2 separate regions of the Homo sapiens genome follow, and region 1 is linked to region 2. The links come from fine-mapping of genetic effects on gene expression. Tissue or cell type: spleen. Region 2 holds a variant in brackets; the other region holds the start of a gene. All regions are shown on one strand. Distances are between the middles of the regions.

Region 1 (8,000 bases), 150 kb after region 2:
TCATAATTTTTGGTTAAAAGCTGGACATGTTGTGTAGGAGTAGAGATTGAGGTAATTTTTATGACTGGAAATGAGCACGCCTGTTCTTTGTGAGGCCTTTGGTGAAGGGTTTGTGTTAATCTGGTTAGGAGTTGGACTTAGTTTATGATTTGTTTTTGCCATAGTTATCCTCAGTGTATTACAGCCTTCATGAATCTGCAGAACAGTTTGTCTCTCTGGTGGGCGATGGTTTACTAGAGCAATGCCTGTTTGATTCTTTGTGTTGTGCCTCTTTGCATAATCTTGTTCCTTTCCTAGTAGTATTTTGTGGGTTACTTGTTACTGAAAGCTTCTTAGCTTGGTGGCAGGGGGTTGGGGGTGGGGGATACAGTCTGATGTTCTGATTAAGTCTAAGTCAAACACTGTGTTCCTGAATCTCAGGAGGGCAGCACTCTCGGTTCTGTTGACCACTCCCGACTGCAGTTTTGGGCTCAGGGCCCCTCCTCCAGGCATAAGATTCTCTCCCACTTCTCATCTACCCCCTGAATGTTCACCAATGGGGCCAACAGAGATACCCTTCTCCCCAGAGATTAAAGCTTTTTTCCATAGAAGAGGCAGAGGGGAAGAATCACAGCAGTTTCTTGACCCTCTTAAAAGTTCTGTTGCTGTTCCTCTCCCTCTCAATCTGCACAGCAGACTCACCCAGGGTTCTTTCCAGTCTTTTCTAGTAGACCCAGGGAGGTTTGTGGATAAGAGTTTGCAAGATTGTGCATTCAGCTTTCATCATGCTTTTTGTCCAGTTGTGTCTGAAGACGGTAAACAGAAATTGACATCTACTCTCTGTAAGCACTGTCTCTCAAATTTTCAGCCAGTGGTTTTGCTCTGTGGACTCAGCTCTTTAATAGATTTCAAAAAAGTCATGAATTTGTAGTGTAGGTCTTTTTTTGTTGCAGAAGTGAGAGCAAAGCTTCTTTTTTTGTCTCAGGGCCAAAGCCAGAGGTAGTTACATTATTTATAAACTAAAGATAGCAAAGAAGGTGTTACTAATTATTTTTTATAAAAAGGGAGCCTTTATTGGGTCTAATAAAGTTGAGAAACACTGACTCAAGGAACTCTTTCAAAATATTAATAACTCCCCTTTAACTACTGCCATGTTTTACAGTGAACATTTAGGCCAAAACCTATTTGTAGCAACCAAATTTGTGCTGCAGTTTATCTGCACAGCCTTGTTTCAATTACTAATTTAAAGTACCTCAATCAGAAGCAGGGGAAAGGTATGTGTAGCAGAAACCTCATATTCACCTGTGTAAACAGAACTGGTTGAGGAATGAAGCCAAATTAGTTAAAACACATCTTTTCAATTTCAACCCTAATTTGGGACCTATTGAGAACCGGACTCCACTATCAACCTTTTAACAAATTTAATAAAGCCAGTATTGTTACAGTCCACCTGGGCAAGGCAACCATCTTCTATTTATTTGTGGATAAAGTTAAATTATTCCAAACAATTCATTCACTTATTAATATTTTATTTTTTAGCTTAAGTATTTTGTTTACAACTAAGCTTGTTAACAATATATAACATTAATATATTTTAGACTATTTATTACTACCACTTTAGAAAAAGAGGAATATTCATTGCCTCTCAGTGGAATACAAATGCTGATATTTTCCATGAACTGAACTCTAGCCTTAAGGTTCTTTACATTCTTATTTCTTAATAATCCTCTGACTCCTCTTTTCCTCCCTTAATATGTTCTACTTCCTGTTTTCAAACAAGGAGTATAATGTAATAATTTCTACACAAGGACGTGTGTTGCCTGAATGCATTGTGATACTAACAGCACAAGCCAAGTCTGAGATATAGTAGCTTAAAAAGCGTTTCACATTACACAAAATGTGAACAAGGTTTTACGTTATATGATAGATAAGCCAATAAAGTACTTTCCAAAAATCAAAGAACTGTGTTCTGGATACCGAATTTCTGACAAGTGGTTTCTATAAATTTATTTTTTTAAGGCAAATTCTGTTTCATACTCCCATAAACTCAAAGTACTGGTAATATATTATAAAACCTTATCACTGTAATTTTCCCTGCAGGCAGTAGTTTCAAACCTAGAAACCTATCAAGTCCATAAACTGAGAAAGAAAATATAGTAAGAAAGAATTACTGGGGGCAGGTTCTGAACTTCTACTTTTTTCCCCAAGACACTGTATTACAAAAGGCTCAACATAACTGTACACTATAAAGCCCTTCATAGAGGACGCAACAGCATCAGGTACAGAACCTCCTTTTTGAGGGAAATCAGAATAACGTAAAAGGGAAAAGCAGAGGGAAAATGAGAAATAATTACTTTGGGAGACCACCGCCACATTAGGGTGAAATCTTTACTTTTTTCCCCCCTCTAAGCAACGGACACAGGAAACAATCTTAAGACAAACGTGGTTAACGGAACACGCTACAAAAGGAGAAAATTTAAGGGAAGGCACTCTTAAACATAGTTAAGTATCAAGTGATTAACAGCCACTTCACTGAGCGTCTAAGTCCTACTTTACCCACTCCAAAGGCCACATTCAAAGATAAAATCACAGCAGCGGAGGAAAGGCCACGTGAATAAGCTGCCTTGCAGGAAGGAAAAGCCTTAGGGGAGAAAATGATTTTAGAAAAAGTACTGGAGAACAGACGACGCGGATGCTCATTTCCTAACAAAACGAAACAAAGCAAAGAAAGTCAGTCTGCAGGACTTGTTCGGAAGGAGGGTCGCTGACCCAAGGAAACAAGAGTTGCCGGCATCCAGCAGGAAGGGTGCTCAGACTAGGAGACTGGAAGGGAATCCCGAGGGCGGAACCCACAAGGGAATGAAGAGCCTGTGGGGTAAGGATATGTTAAGGCGAGTGGAGGAGCGTACTAGGTATAAAACAAGCAAAAAAAAGGGGTGGGGCTGGACAGGGCAGCGCCCTGAGCTAATGTCACTCAAAGCCGGGGGGGCGTCCAACGAAAGGAACCAGACCAGCAGCCTGGGGGAAGGGTAATCTGCTTCCTTAGCAGCTGCAGGCTGCAGCAGCCAAGACCACCCCGTTTTCCCTGCCCTGAGCCCCACAAAGTCCCCACGGCGTGGGAAGGGAGTAAGGCAGAGCCCCAGAGCCCAGTGCCCGGAGTCGGCTTTACCTTCGCGGGAGGCTGGAGAGGCTCCAGCCCTAGCTCCTCCCGCCGCCGGCTCAGCTTCCAGAGTGGGATGAGGCGCCCTCCGGCCTCCTCACCCTCACCACTTCCCCTTTCCCCCGCCGGGGCCCTGCAGCTCCGCTGCCGCGGGTTCCTGGTGCCGCCGCGGCGCTGCCTCCCCGCCCCCTCCGCCTCCTCCCTCTGCCTCTCAGAGTTTCACTCTGGAGGCCGCCATCTTCGCTCAGGCTTTGAGCGAGCGCGCTCTAATACGCCTGCGTCGCCACCGCCCAGGCTGTCACGAGACCCAGTCAGCTGATTTCAACTCTTCCGTCTTCTGCCCCGCCCTCCCCGTCCTCCCCGTCCCGATCGTTCTTTCCCTGAAATTCTGCTTTCCTCCGGCCAGCCCCCAGCAGCTACACATGCGCAGAGTAACGACACCGGCCGTGGGATTTGGATTCCACGCAGCGCGTCAGGGGGCTGGCGCCTCGGTGGGTGCTGAAAAGGACACGCCCCTGGGCGCGCGCGGGTGCCCATGACCACGCCCCTCCGGCGGGTGCCCATGACCACGCCCCTCCGGCGTGTGCCTTAGGGCCGCGCCCCTCCGCTTATGTCCTGCGGAGAGTAGGGTCGCAACCCGGTACTTAAGCTTTAAGTCCGAGGAAATCTTGTTTTAAATCACCTCTTTTTAGCTCTTGCCGTCAAGTGCCATGGAGCATCTGCGAGGCAGTCTGAAGCCTCAGCCTATCTCCTGGTTTGGCTGGATTGGGAGCCAGCAGGTTCATTTACTATTGAGACGTCCTGAACGACAGCAGAGCAGGGTTTAAGTTATGGATGCTCTGGAAGGTCTCAGAGACCAAATTCTCAGAGACGCCTAAGGCATTTGCAGGTGGGAATGCTGGAAAGATAGTTCTGGTAGCCCCATTTATTGTGTCCGGATCAAGTGTTTAGAAGTTTACTTAAAGCTGCTTAATCTTCAACTCTCTGAGATACGAATCATCCTCGTTTTGCAGATAAGTTGAGGCCCAGCCTCAGAGTAGTGGATTTCATGTTTGCACCCAAGTAATTTGAACCCAGAACCTGTGCCCTCTAGATAACCATCTTCCTGAACCTCACCTGAGAGGGAAGTCAGGGCAGTGAAAAGAGGGGATATTGGGACTAAAGGATTCGGCTAGAAATTATGTGTTATCTGTGGGCAATGGTTTAAATAAGAAAGGTCAATGTCCACTCCCAGATCTGAGCCGTAAAGACCACAGTTTAAAAATTAGTGATTAAAAAAAAAATAGTGATTCTGCTGCAGACTTCAGAGTAGAGGCAGTGTAGGGTGACCTGCATGGATACATTATTGTATAAGGGTTAAAGGTCTCTGATAAGGAGTTGAATACTCATTCTTCATGGCAGTCCTGAAATTGTGATTTCTTGGCGTCCCCTTCAGCAAGTTGGCTCATTTTATAGACAGCGATTGCAGGATGAAAAAATGTGGAAAAATGGTTTTTACAGACTTTACCTCTTGATTCTATTAACCCTTTGCCCTACCTTAGGGCGGAAAAAGACTATTTGTGTTTATCCTTAGACTTTTCTGTAATGCAGCAGTAAGATAAGGTGCATGTAAGGGAAGGTACTAGGAATAGCTGGGTGTGGGAAGACAGAACCCGAAATAGAGTAGGAAGGGAGGAGGAGGAAAAAGAAACAGGAGGGCTGTGTTAAGGGGCCTTATTGGCTTATCCCATGGAAACAGAAACGTGTTTATGTGGTTACAAAGCCTTCCAGTAATCCCAAAAGTAAATGTGGGGTATATTATTTCGATTTTAGAGAAGCAGCAGACCCAGAGAGTCCAGGAGACTTGCTAAAGGTGACCTAACTCCTAAAGGTTGAGCCAAGATTAAGACACAGGGCCTGCCTGTAACATCAAGGCCAGTGAACTGTTCAACCTCCACACTGCCTCTCTGTTCAATATTTGAGACCAATAAAATCAATTCTCGTGTTGAGAGGAGCCTTAGGCATCATGAATTGTCCCCATCCTCTGTAGTGCAAAATTGCCTCACAAGACATCTTTTTCCATTGCATTTTTATAAGCCATTTTCCTTGTATTCAGCCAACTTGCACTCTCTTCTATGAGTAGTTATTTTGTCTTTGTTTCTTGCTCTTTTCTTCTTGTATGTGACATTCATTTAAGCACTTATCAGTACAGCTTATCACCCTTTCCCACTCCCTCTCCCGTGCATATCCTTCTAACTACCCCTGCTACAGATACTCATTTTAAGAAACCATATTCAAAGTACTTTCAACCATTGTTCACAAGATGTAGTTTCAAGCCTTTTCACAACCACTGGTTGCTTTTAATTGGATCCATACAATTGGATCCTTCTTAAAATGCCACAACAAAATACAAGAGTCAGGGAGAGTAGGACTTGTCTCTTCTTTCCCTATTAGGTTAAATCAGTTGGATCCTTTCCCCACCCAACTCTTTTTTAAGAGTGACAAATGCACACTTCTTTTTCTGGATTTGTCTTTTTATTCATAATTAAAGTTTGCACTAGCGTTTCTGACACTTTCATAGTGCAGATGTATCAAATTTACAATCTAAATTATGTGATGTACACTTAAAATATTTCACAGCTTTTTAAAAAATACATTTCACAGCCTTTTAGGCACCAATAGCCTTTATCAGTCTCCAAAGTTAGCATACAAGGCTGGAGTGATCTAAGACTTTAGAGAGCCCACAAGAATGTCAAACACTTGCTTATCTAATTCCCATTGCTGCTAAATTGACCTTCCTAATTATATCAATGCCCAGATCCAAAGTAAATCCTTAAGAACTCATACCACTCAACAATGCTTGAACTATGTTTTCAGTACAGTAGCCACTAGCCCTATGTGGCTACTGAACACAGAATAAAAATTAAAATTGTTACAAAAAAATGTAAAATGTTGCATTAGCAATTTTTATATTGATTACACGTGTTAAAAGAAAAAAATATTTAGGCCGGGCACGGTGGCTCACGCCTGTAGTCCCAGCACTTTGGGAGGCTGAGGCGGGTGGATCACCTGAGGTCAGGAGTTTGAGACCAGCTTGGCCAACATGATGAAACCCCGTCTCTACTAAATATAAAAAAATTAGGCGGGCCTGGTGGTGCATACCTGTAATCCCAGCTATTCGGGATGCTGAGGCAGGAGAATCACTTGAACCTGGGAGGGGGAGGTTGCAGTGAGCCGAGATGGTGCCACTGCACTCCAGCCTGGGCAACAAGAGTGAAACTCTCAAAAAAAAAAAAAGTATTATTTAATGATACTTGTTAAAGCTTGGTAATAGGCTGAGCATGATGGCTGACACCTGTAATCCCAAGGCTTTGGGAGGCCAAGTCAGGAGGATCACTTGAGGCCAGGAGTTTGAGACCAGCCTATGCAATGTAGTGGGACCCCATTGCTACAAAATAATAAAAATAAAAGCATTATCTGGGCATGGGGGCATGCCCCTGTAGTGCTAGTTACTCAGGAGGCTGAGGTGAGAGGATCTCTTGAGCCCAGGAGTTCGAGGTTACAGTGAGCTATAATTGTGCCACTGCACTCCTGCCTGGGCAGCAGAGAAAGACCCTGTACCCCCTGCTCCCCACAAAAAAGATTTTATTCAGTTTATTTACGATCATTACAATAGGTACAGGAGCCACTGCAACAGGGGCTTGCAGTAAGGGAGAGAGACGGGGCTCAGGTCGGAAAACGACACGGGCAAGTATGCATTTATCTCCAAGGAACAGTGTGTGGGGGTCAGTGGATGGAAAATTACTAAGAGAAAACATCAGGGGTGAGCGGGGATCCTGGCTAAACCTACGTAACAGGATTCTTGCTAAAGACAGGCCAGAGTGATTAGACATCTTCTGGGGGAAGGTGAAAGATGAGGAATCTGATCACATATCGAGGGAATTTTGGCTAAACTGACTTAGCCAGGTTCTTTTGCAGACTAGACTTTTCAAGGAAGCACACAGAGGGGCCTAAGGAAAGGTTCAGAAGCCTGATTAAAATTTGGCTGAGCAAAGACTCTTTGTCACATGTGGAAATGATAATATTATGGCTGTATATTTGGTTAAATAAAATGTTATTAAAATTAATTTCACTTGTTTCTTTTAAGGAATGTAGCTACTAGTAAATGTAAAATTAAATATATGGCTCCCATTGTATTTCTCTTGGACAATACTGCTATTAGAAAATCTTGTGCAAGCAAACAGTAAGTGTCAGAAAACAACTACGTCGAGTTGGTGAGCTTGAAGCTTCCACAGAATCTTCTACTGGACTTCATTTTAATTTGTTATGTGATTGGTTGGTTGTTTGTCTTTAGTGGTTTTTCTCAAGATTTATCTGGCCACACGTATTTAGTTTTCTGTGTTTCTCTATACTGTAATTCAAATAATTGAAATTATTTACAACATATGACAAATTATGACATGAGAATTTCTTGACATATATACATATGTATCTGTATATATATATAGGATCCACAATTTTTTTTTTTTGTAACTGATAGCCTGGCTTCCCCAGCTCACTTAATCCTACCCCAGGAAGTCTAGTTTTATTATTAATGTGAATTAAAATATCTTTTTAAATAGTATAATGATGTTCATATATAAAGGATTTTGAATTTATAATATTTTATTAACAAAAACATGCTTTCATTTAATTACAGGAAATTATCTAGATTTGATTATATTTTCAAAGATGGATGAGGAGGGAAAAGAAAATAACTTATTCTGTGGTCTAACAATTTTAAACTATTATTGAAATTTTAACTGGTTAAGAAAAAGGCCTGTGTTCTTTTTCCTTATTAAATTTTACCACAACTGCTCTTTTACAATATATACACTGCTGA
Region 2 (8,267 bases):
TTCAGCATTATATGATTTATTTGTATAGTTTTTTAACTGAAAAGCTACAGCCCGCTTTATGACACTACACCTGGGAATAATTTGTCAGGAGCCCTTTTAGTATACAGCGAAGGCAAGTTTTTAGTATACAGCAAAGTTCAGCTGTTGGCTGGGCACTGTGGGAGGAGGTGAGAAAGTGTGACCCTCTGGGGCCCTGGATACAGCCTCTGATGCTGTTGAAGAAGGATGAAGAGGTGCTCAGGGCACCAACCATTACTTCTTACCCTTTTGTCAAGCTTGCATGCAAACTCTGGAGCAGGGTGAAGGGAGGACACAGTAAAGTCGACAAACAAGCATCGCGAATGCACAAAAGCCCTCTGTGCAAGTGCTGCTTTCCTGAGTGGTGTTTTAATACTGCATTAGTAAAAAATTTCCCTTCCACCTTTTAAAGTTAATGTGTCATGCAGAGCAAGCCTGGCTTTTTAACAAATATGCCTGTTTTCACTGGAAACTTTTCACATCTGGCACAAATAACGTGATCTGGCAGAAACAAAAAGATGTGTGAGCATGTCATAAGCAAAAATCTGGGCCAGCTTTTTTATTTTAATTTGTGAAAGGAACATTTCATTTCTTTGAATTTGGAGGCTCCTTCCAGCTGCCTTCTAATTTACTCCAGGCTGTAACGCAAAAAATTCTCCATCCCAGTTCTGTCTTAGGAAATATATTTGGCAGTTCCCTAGAGCACCTAGTTTCTACCCATTTAATGCTTTTCAGCAAATCTAGGGTCTATAGAGACCCAACTGAGAATACCTCCTTTATTCTAAAGCTGAGAAGTAAATGTCTTCTAAGTCTGTTCATGAAGTTATAAAGTTGTAATTATCCTGTTTTACAGCCATCAAAAAATATTTATTCACCACCAGCAACTTGTTTGAAATTAATTCAGAGCCATGTTTCAACCTCTAGGGCAGTGCCATCCAAAAGAAATATACTATGAACCTTAAATGTTATTTTAAATGTTCTAATAGCAACATTTTTAAAAAGTGAAAAGAAAAAGATGGAATTAATTTTAATAATATATTTTATTTAACCCAATATATCAAAAATACTATTTCAACATGAAATCAATATAAAAATTATTAATGAGATACTTTATATTTTAATATTTATTCTTCAATATGGGGTGCATATTTTATACTTATAGTACATCTCAGTTCAGACTAGGTATGTTTCAAATGCTCATTAGCCACATATGGTTAGTAGCTATCATGTTGAACATCACCGCTTTAGGGAAACTCTAATCAAATATCCCCTGTTGAAGGGCAAACATGACCAAGCATAAAAATGGCCAAGGTGTGCATGTTCTCACTCATAAGTGGGGAGATGAACAATAAGAACACATGGACATGGGGAGGGGAACAACACACACCGGGGCCAGTTGGAGGGTGGGGGCAAGGAGAGGGAGAGCATTAGGACAAATAGCTAATGCATGCAGGGCTTACAACCTAGATGACGTGTAGATAAGTGTAGCAAACCACCATGGCACCTGTATACCTATGTAACAAACCTACACATTTTGCACTTGTATCCCGGAACTTAAAATAATAAAGAAGAAAAGAAAGGAAAATAAAAGGACAATTAAACGTCAAAAAAATGGCTAAGATGTAAGGAAGGTGCGCAGTTTCAATCCCCTGCAGATGGCTAGCAAGTTATCCCAGCACCATTTATTGAATAAGGGAGTCCTTTCTCCATTGCTTGTTTTTGTCACCTTTGTCAATGATCAGATGGTTGTAGGTATGTGGCCCCATTTCTGGGCTCTCTGTTACATTGGTCTATGTACCTGTTTTTGTAACAGTACCATGCTGTTTTGGTTACTGTAGCCTTGTAGTATAGTTTGAAGTCAAGTAACATTATGCCTCCAGCTTTGTTCTTTTTGTTTAGGAGTGCCTTGGCTATTTGGGCTCTTTCTTGGTTCCATATAAATTTTAAAATAGTTTTTCCTAGTTCTTTGAAGAGTGTCATTGGTAGCTTGATAGGAATAGCATTAAATCTATAAATTGCCCCAGGCAGTATAGTCATTTTAATGATATTGATTCTTCATATCCATGAGCATGGAATGTTTTTCCATTTGTTTATGTCATCTCTGATTTCTTTGAGCACTGTTTTGTAGTTCTCCTTGTAAAGATTTTTTACCTCCCTGGTTAGCTCTATTCCTAGGTATTTTATTCTTTTTGTGGCAACTGTGAATGGGATTGCATTCCCGATTTGGCTCTCGGGGAGTGCTAGTGATTTTTGTTTGTTGATTTTGTATCCTGAGACTTCGCTGAAGTTGTTTATCAGCTTAAGAAGCTTTAGGGCTGAGACTGGGGTTTTCTAGATATAGAATAATGTCTTCTGCAAACAGGGATAGTTTGACTTTCTGTCTTCCTGTTTTGATGCACTTTATTTATTTCTCTTGCCTGATTGGTCTGCCCAGGACTTCCAATACTGTGTTGAATAGGAGTGGTGAGAGAGGACATCCTTGTCTTGTGCCAGTTTTCAAGGGGAATGCTTCCAGTGTTTGCCCATTCAGTATGATGTTTGCTGTGGTTTTGTCATAGATGGCTCTTATTATTTTGAGGTATGTTCCTCGAATACCTAGTTTATTGAGAGTTTTTAACAGAAAAGTTTAGCAGAGGTGTTGAATTTTATTGAAAGCCTTTTCTGCATCTATTGAGATGATCAAGTGGTTTTTGTCTTTAGTTCTATGTGATGAATCAGATTTATTGATTTGCAAATGTTGAACCAACCTTACATCCCAAGGATATAGCCTACTGGATCATGGTGGATAAGCCTTTTGATGTGTTGCTGGATTCTGTTTTCCAGTATTTTGTTGAGGATCAAAGACTTAACTGTAAAACCCAAAACTATAAAAACCCTGGAAGACAACCTACGCAATGCCATTCTGGACATAGGAATGGGCAAAGATTTCATGATGAAGATGCCAAAAGCCATTACAAAAAAAGCAAAAATTGATCAATGCAATCTAATTAAACTAACGAGCTTCTGCACGGCAAAAGAAACTATCAACAGAGTAAATAGGCAACCTACAGAATTGGAGAAAATTTAGCAAACTATTTGCATCTGACAAAAGTCTAACATCCAACATCTATAAGGAACTTAAACAAATTTACAAAAAAAAAAAAAAACCGTTAAAAAGTAGGCCAAAGACATGAACAGACTCTTTTGAAAAGAAGACAGACATGTGGCCAACAGGCATGTGAAAAAAAGCTAAAAATCACTGATCATTAGAGAAATACAAATAAAAAAAAAGCCACAGTGAGATACTATCTAACACTAGTCAGAATGGCTGTTATTAAAAAATAACAGATGCTGGGCTGGTGAGGTTGTGGAGAAAAAGGAAGGCTTATACACTGTTGGTGGGAGTTCAGCCATTGTGGAAAACAGTGTGAGGATTCCTCAAAGAACTTAAAACAGAAATACCATTTGACCCAGCAATTCCATTACTGGATATATACGCAAAGGTATATAAGTCATTCTACGTTAAAGACACATGCGTGTGTATGTTCAGTACAGCACTATTCATAATAGTGAAGACATGGAATCAACCTAAATGCTCATCAATGATAGACTGGATAAAGAAAATGTGGTACAGAAACACCATGGAACATTATGCAGCCGTAAAAAGAATAAGTTGATTTCTTTTGTGGGAACATGGATAGAGCTGGAGGTCATTATCCTTAGCCAACTAACGCAGGAACAGAAAACTAAATACCACATTTTGTCACTTATAAGTGGGAGCTAAATGATGAGAACACATGGACACATAAAGGGAAATAACAGACATGGTAGCCTACCAGAGGGTGGAAGGTGGGAGGAGGGAGAGGGTCGGGAAAAATAACTAATGGGTACTAGGATTAATACCTGAGTGACGAAATAATCTGTATAATAAACCCCCATGGCACGAGTTTATCTATATAACAAACTTGCACATGTATCCCGAATTTAAAAGTTAAAAGTAAATAAAAAAGATATGATTACCATCAGAAAAAAAATAAAATAAAATGTAAATATAATCTGGAAAACACAGGTATGGAAGGTTAATATGGCTCGAATCAAAGCACCGTAATTGTCTGCTGGTTTAACTCATCTTGATGAACATTTTTCTCCATTGTAAACACCAATTCTGTGTTTAGAATTGGAAACCAATTCTGTGTTTAGCTTAACAGTAACCCACAACACTTGGACCAACTCAATTCTGTGTTTAGAATTGGAAACCAAAAAACTCCTTAGAGCCTGCTGGACACGTTTTGTATGCCTCCTGGGTTTCATTGCAGAATTCTGAATGTTTGCTTGCCTGTGGGACTTATGGTGAGGTTTGATTTTCATATTTTTCCACTTACCTCCCTGCTTCTCTTACAAGTTCTGACAAATTGGGAAAACTCACAGAATGTTTTCTAAGCTAAACAAGAAGCAAGTACCAATTTTTAAATTCAACTTTTCACTTTGAGATAATTACAGTTTCACATACAGGTATAAGAAATAACATATAGATCTCTTGAATCCTTTGCCCAGTTTCCCCAATGGTAACATCTTGCAAAACTAGAATATAGTATCAGGACCAGGATGTTGTCATGAATATAGTCAGAATACAGAGCATTCCATTCACTACAAGGATCCTTCATGTTGCCCTTTTATAGCCACATTTACTTTGCTTCCACCCCAACCTTCTCATTAACTCCTGGCAACCACTAATCTGTTCTTCATTTTACAATTTTGTCATTCCAAGAATGGAGTCATACAATATGAAAACATTTGACACTGGCTGTTTTCACTCAACATAATTTCTCGGAGATTTATCTAGGTTGTGTTTATCAGTA[G/T]TTGGTTCATTTTTATTGTTCAGTAGTATTCCTTAGTCTGGATATACTACAGTTTGTTTAACTGTTTTTACCTGTTGAGGGACATCTGGGTTGTTTCCAGGTTTGGGTTATTGCAAATAAAATTGCTGTAAACATTTGTGTAGGCTTTTGTGTAAATATAATTTTTCGTTTCTCAGAGATAAATGCCCACGAGTGCAATTACTGTGTCATGTGGTAGTTGCATGTTTAGTTTTTTTTGGAAACTGCTGAGCTTTTCTATTTTTGATTCTCACTAACTGTGTATGAGTGATTCAGTTTCTCCACATCCCCTCCAGCATATGGTGTTGTCACTACTTTTTAATTTTAGCCATTCTGATGGGTTTGTAGTGATATCTCATTGTGGCTTTAATCTCAGTTGCCCTGTTGGTGAATCATGTTGAGCATCTTTTCATGTGCTTATTTGCCATCTTATGTCCTCTTTGGTTCATGTCCTGTGTCCATGTCCTAGATCACTTTTTTTTTACTTTGAATTTTGAGAGTTCTTTATATATTCTAGATACTATCCTGTCAGATATGTAGTTTGTAAATATTTTCTCCTACTCTGTATCTTGTCTTTTCATCCTCTTAACAGGGTCGTTCACAGAACAAAAGTGTTTAATTTTAATGAACTCTAATTTGTCAATTTTTGCTTATGTGGGTCATGCTTTTGGTGTCAAGTCTAATAACTCTGCCGAATCCTATATTCTGAAGATTTTCTCCCATAATGTGTCACTAAAAGTTTCACATTTTACATTTGTGTCTGCTTACATTTTGAGTTAACTTTTGTATGAAACTTAGGTCAAGCTTCTTTTTTTTTTTTTTTTTTTTTTTTTTGCCTGTGGATGTCCAATTGCTTCAGCAACGTTTTTTGAAAAAGCTATGTTTCCTCCATTGAATTGTTTTTGTGCCTTTCTCAAAAATCAGTCAGACATTATTTGTGTGGGTTTATATATGGGTTGTCTCTTCTGTCTTAATTATCTATGCGTCAGTCTCTGCCAACACTGCACAGTCTTGATTACTGTGGTTACATAGTCAGTCTTCAAATAAGCTAGGCTGATTCCTCTCAGTTTAGACTTCTCTTTCAAAAGTGTTTCAGCTATTCTGGTTCCTTTGCCTTTGCATATAATTTAAAAATAATCTTGTCTATATCTGCAAACATTAAGAAAAATTGATATCTTTACTATGTGGAGTTTTCTATTCTGTGAACCTGGTATATCTCTCCATTTATTTAGCTTTTCCTTGGTTTCTTTCATCATCTACACACATCATCTCATCTGTGTGTAGTTTTCAGCATACAAGTCCTATACATAAGTATTTCAGTTTTGAGCAATTATAATAAGTATTGTGTTTTTAATTTCAGGGTCTATTACTAGTATATGGAAGTATAGTTTTTTTGTTTTGTTTTTTTGAGATGAAGTTTCACTGTTGTTGCCCAGGCTGGAGTGTAATTGCATGATCTTGGCTCACTGCGGTCTCCGCCTCCTGGGTTCAAGCGATTCTCCAGCCTCAGCCTCCCAAGTAGCTAGGATTCAGGTGCCTGCCACCACACCTGGCTAATTTTTTTGTATTTTTAGTAGAGACAGGGTTTCACCATGTTGTATGTTTATCTCATACCCTGTGGCCTCGCTGAACTCACTTATTAGTTCTAGGAGTTTTTTGTAGATTGCTTGGGATTTTACATAGATAATCATGTCATCTGTAAATAAGGAACAGTTTTATTTATTCTTTTATGATATACATGCTTTTTGTCTCCTTCCTTTGTCTTATTGCACTGGCTAGAACTTCCAATACTATGTTGAATAAGAGAGGTGAGAACTGACATTCTTATCTTGTTCTCTGTCTTAGGGGAATGTTAGGTATAATGTTAGCTATAGCATTTTTGTAGATGTCCTGTTGTGGATGCCACCATACCTGGCCCTATATCATTATATTTGATATACATTTCTTCTAAATAACATATAGTTTGGTCATATTTTTAATCCACTTTATCAATCTTTGTCTTTATAATAACTGATATGTTAGGGCTTAAATCGGATATTTTATTTTTGTTTTCTGTTTGTTCTCTCTGGTTATTGTTTTTCTGTTTTCCTTTTCCTGCATTCCTGTGGGTTAATTTAACATTTTTAGAACTACATTTTGATTTATTTATAGTGTTTCTCGAGTGTCTCTTTGTATAGCTGTTTTGGTGGTTGTTCTAGGTATTATATATACATGTTTATCTATCTATCTAGTTACCTTTCTCTCTAGATCTTATTAAAGTCTATTGGTGTCATCATTTTACCAGTTTGAGTCAAGTATAGACATTTTACCTTCCTTTAAGTTCCTTTAACTTCTCCCATTTATAATATAATTGTCTTGGGCCTGGCGCAGTAGTTCACACCTGTAATCCCACACTTTGGGAGGCCATGGCGGGTGGATCATTTGAGGTCAGGAGTTTGAGACCAGCCTGGCCAACATGGTGAAACCCTGTTTCTACTAAAAATACAAAAATTAGCCGGGTATGGTGGCGTGTGCCTGTAACCCCAGCTATTCGGGAGGCTGAGGCACAAGAATTGCTTAAACCCAGGAGGCGGAGGTTGCAGTGAGCTGAGATCACGCCACTGCACTCCAGCCTGGGAGATAGAGTGAGACTCTGTCTCTAAATAAATAAACAATATAATTGTCTTAATTATTTTCTCTAAATACATTTAGAACAACATCAGGGTTATAATTTTTGCCTCCACCATCAAATATACTTTAGAAAATTTTAGAGAAGAAAGCAAACGAATTTTATTAGCTGTATTTTTGCTTATTGTGTTCTTTCTTCTTTCCTGATTTTCCAAGGTTTCTTCTTTTATCTTTTTCTTTCCATTTAGAGAACTTCCTTTAACATTTCCTTTAGGGTCTAAAAGTGACAAATTCTGTTTTGCTTCTTCTAAGAATGTCTTATTTCTTCTTTATTCCTGGAAGATATCCCCACTGGATATAAGTTTCTTTTCTTTCAGCACTAGAAAAATATTGTGCTGCTTCCTTCTGACATATATATATCCCTGCTATAGGTAAGGTGTCATTTTTCTCTGGTGCTTTCAAGATTTTTTTATGTCTATTTTTTCAGAAACTTAATCATGATGTGTGTTGGTATGGATTTCTAGGATTTATCCTGCTTGGGATTCACCCAGCTTCTTGAATCTTCAGGTTTAGGTCTCTTGCCAAATTTGGGATGTTTTCAACCATTGTTTCTTCAAACTTTTTCAGCCTTACTCTTTCTCTTCTTCCTGGAATCTGGTGATGTGAATGGTAAATCTTTTGTTATAATTCCACATGTTCCTATGATGCTGTTCTTTTTTTTTTTGTTTTTTTGAGTTTGTTTTCTCTCTTTGGTTTAGGGTGGGCTGTTTCTATTGTCCTATCTTC

What was found. PIP is the estimated chance that this variant, and not a neighbour inherited with it, causes the effect.
Region 1: DNAJC13 starts here. The variant in region 2 is fine-mapped to the expression of DNAJC13 in spleen (GTEx, PIP above 0.99).

The regions. Positions count from the first base shown.
Region 1 is chr3:132,412,909-132,420,908 of GRCh38, reverse strand. It overlaps DNAJC13 (DnaJ heat shock protein family (Hsp40) member C13), which reads right to left and starts at 3,407. Exons shown (of 56, transcript NM_015268.4): 1 at 3,149-3,407. RefSeq lists enhancers at 2,543-3,078, 3,018-3,167 and silencers at 3,198-3,337, 3,618-3,717.
Region 2 is chr3:132,566,243-132,574,509 of GRCh38, reverse strand. The region is part of intron 17 of ACAD11 (acyl-CoA dehydrogenase family member 11); the gene reads left to right. All of the region lies in intron 42 of NPHP3-ACAD11 (NPHP3-ACAD11 readthrough (NMD candidate)), which reads left to right. Among named protein-coding and RNA genes, the nearest start is that of ACKR4, 27 kb to the left of the region's middle. The variant G/T (reference allele first, on the strand shown) is at 4,857.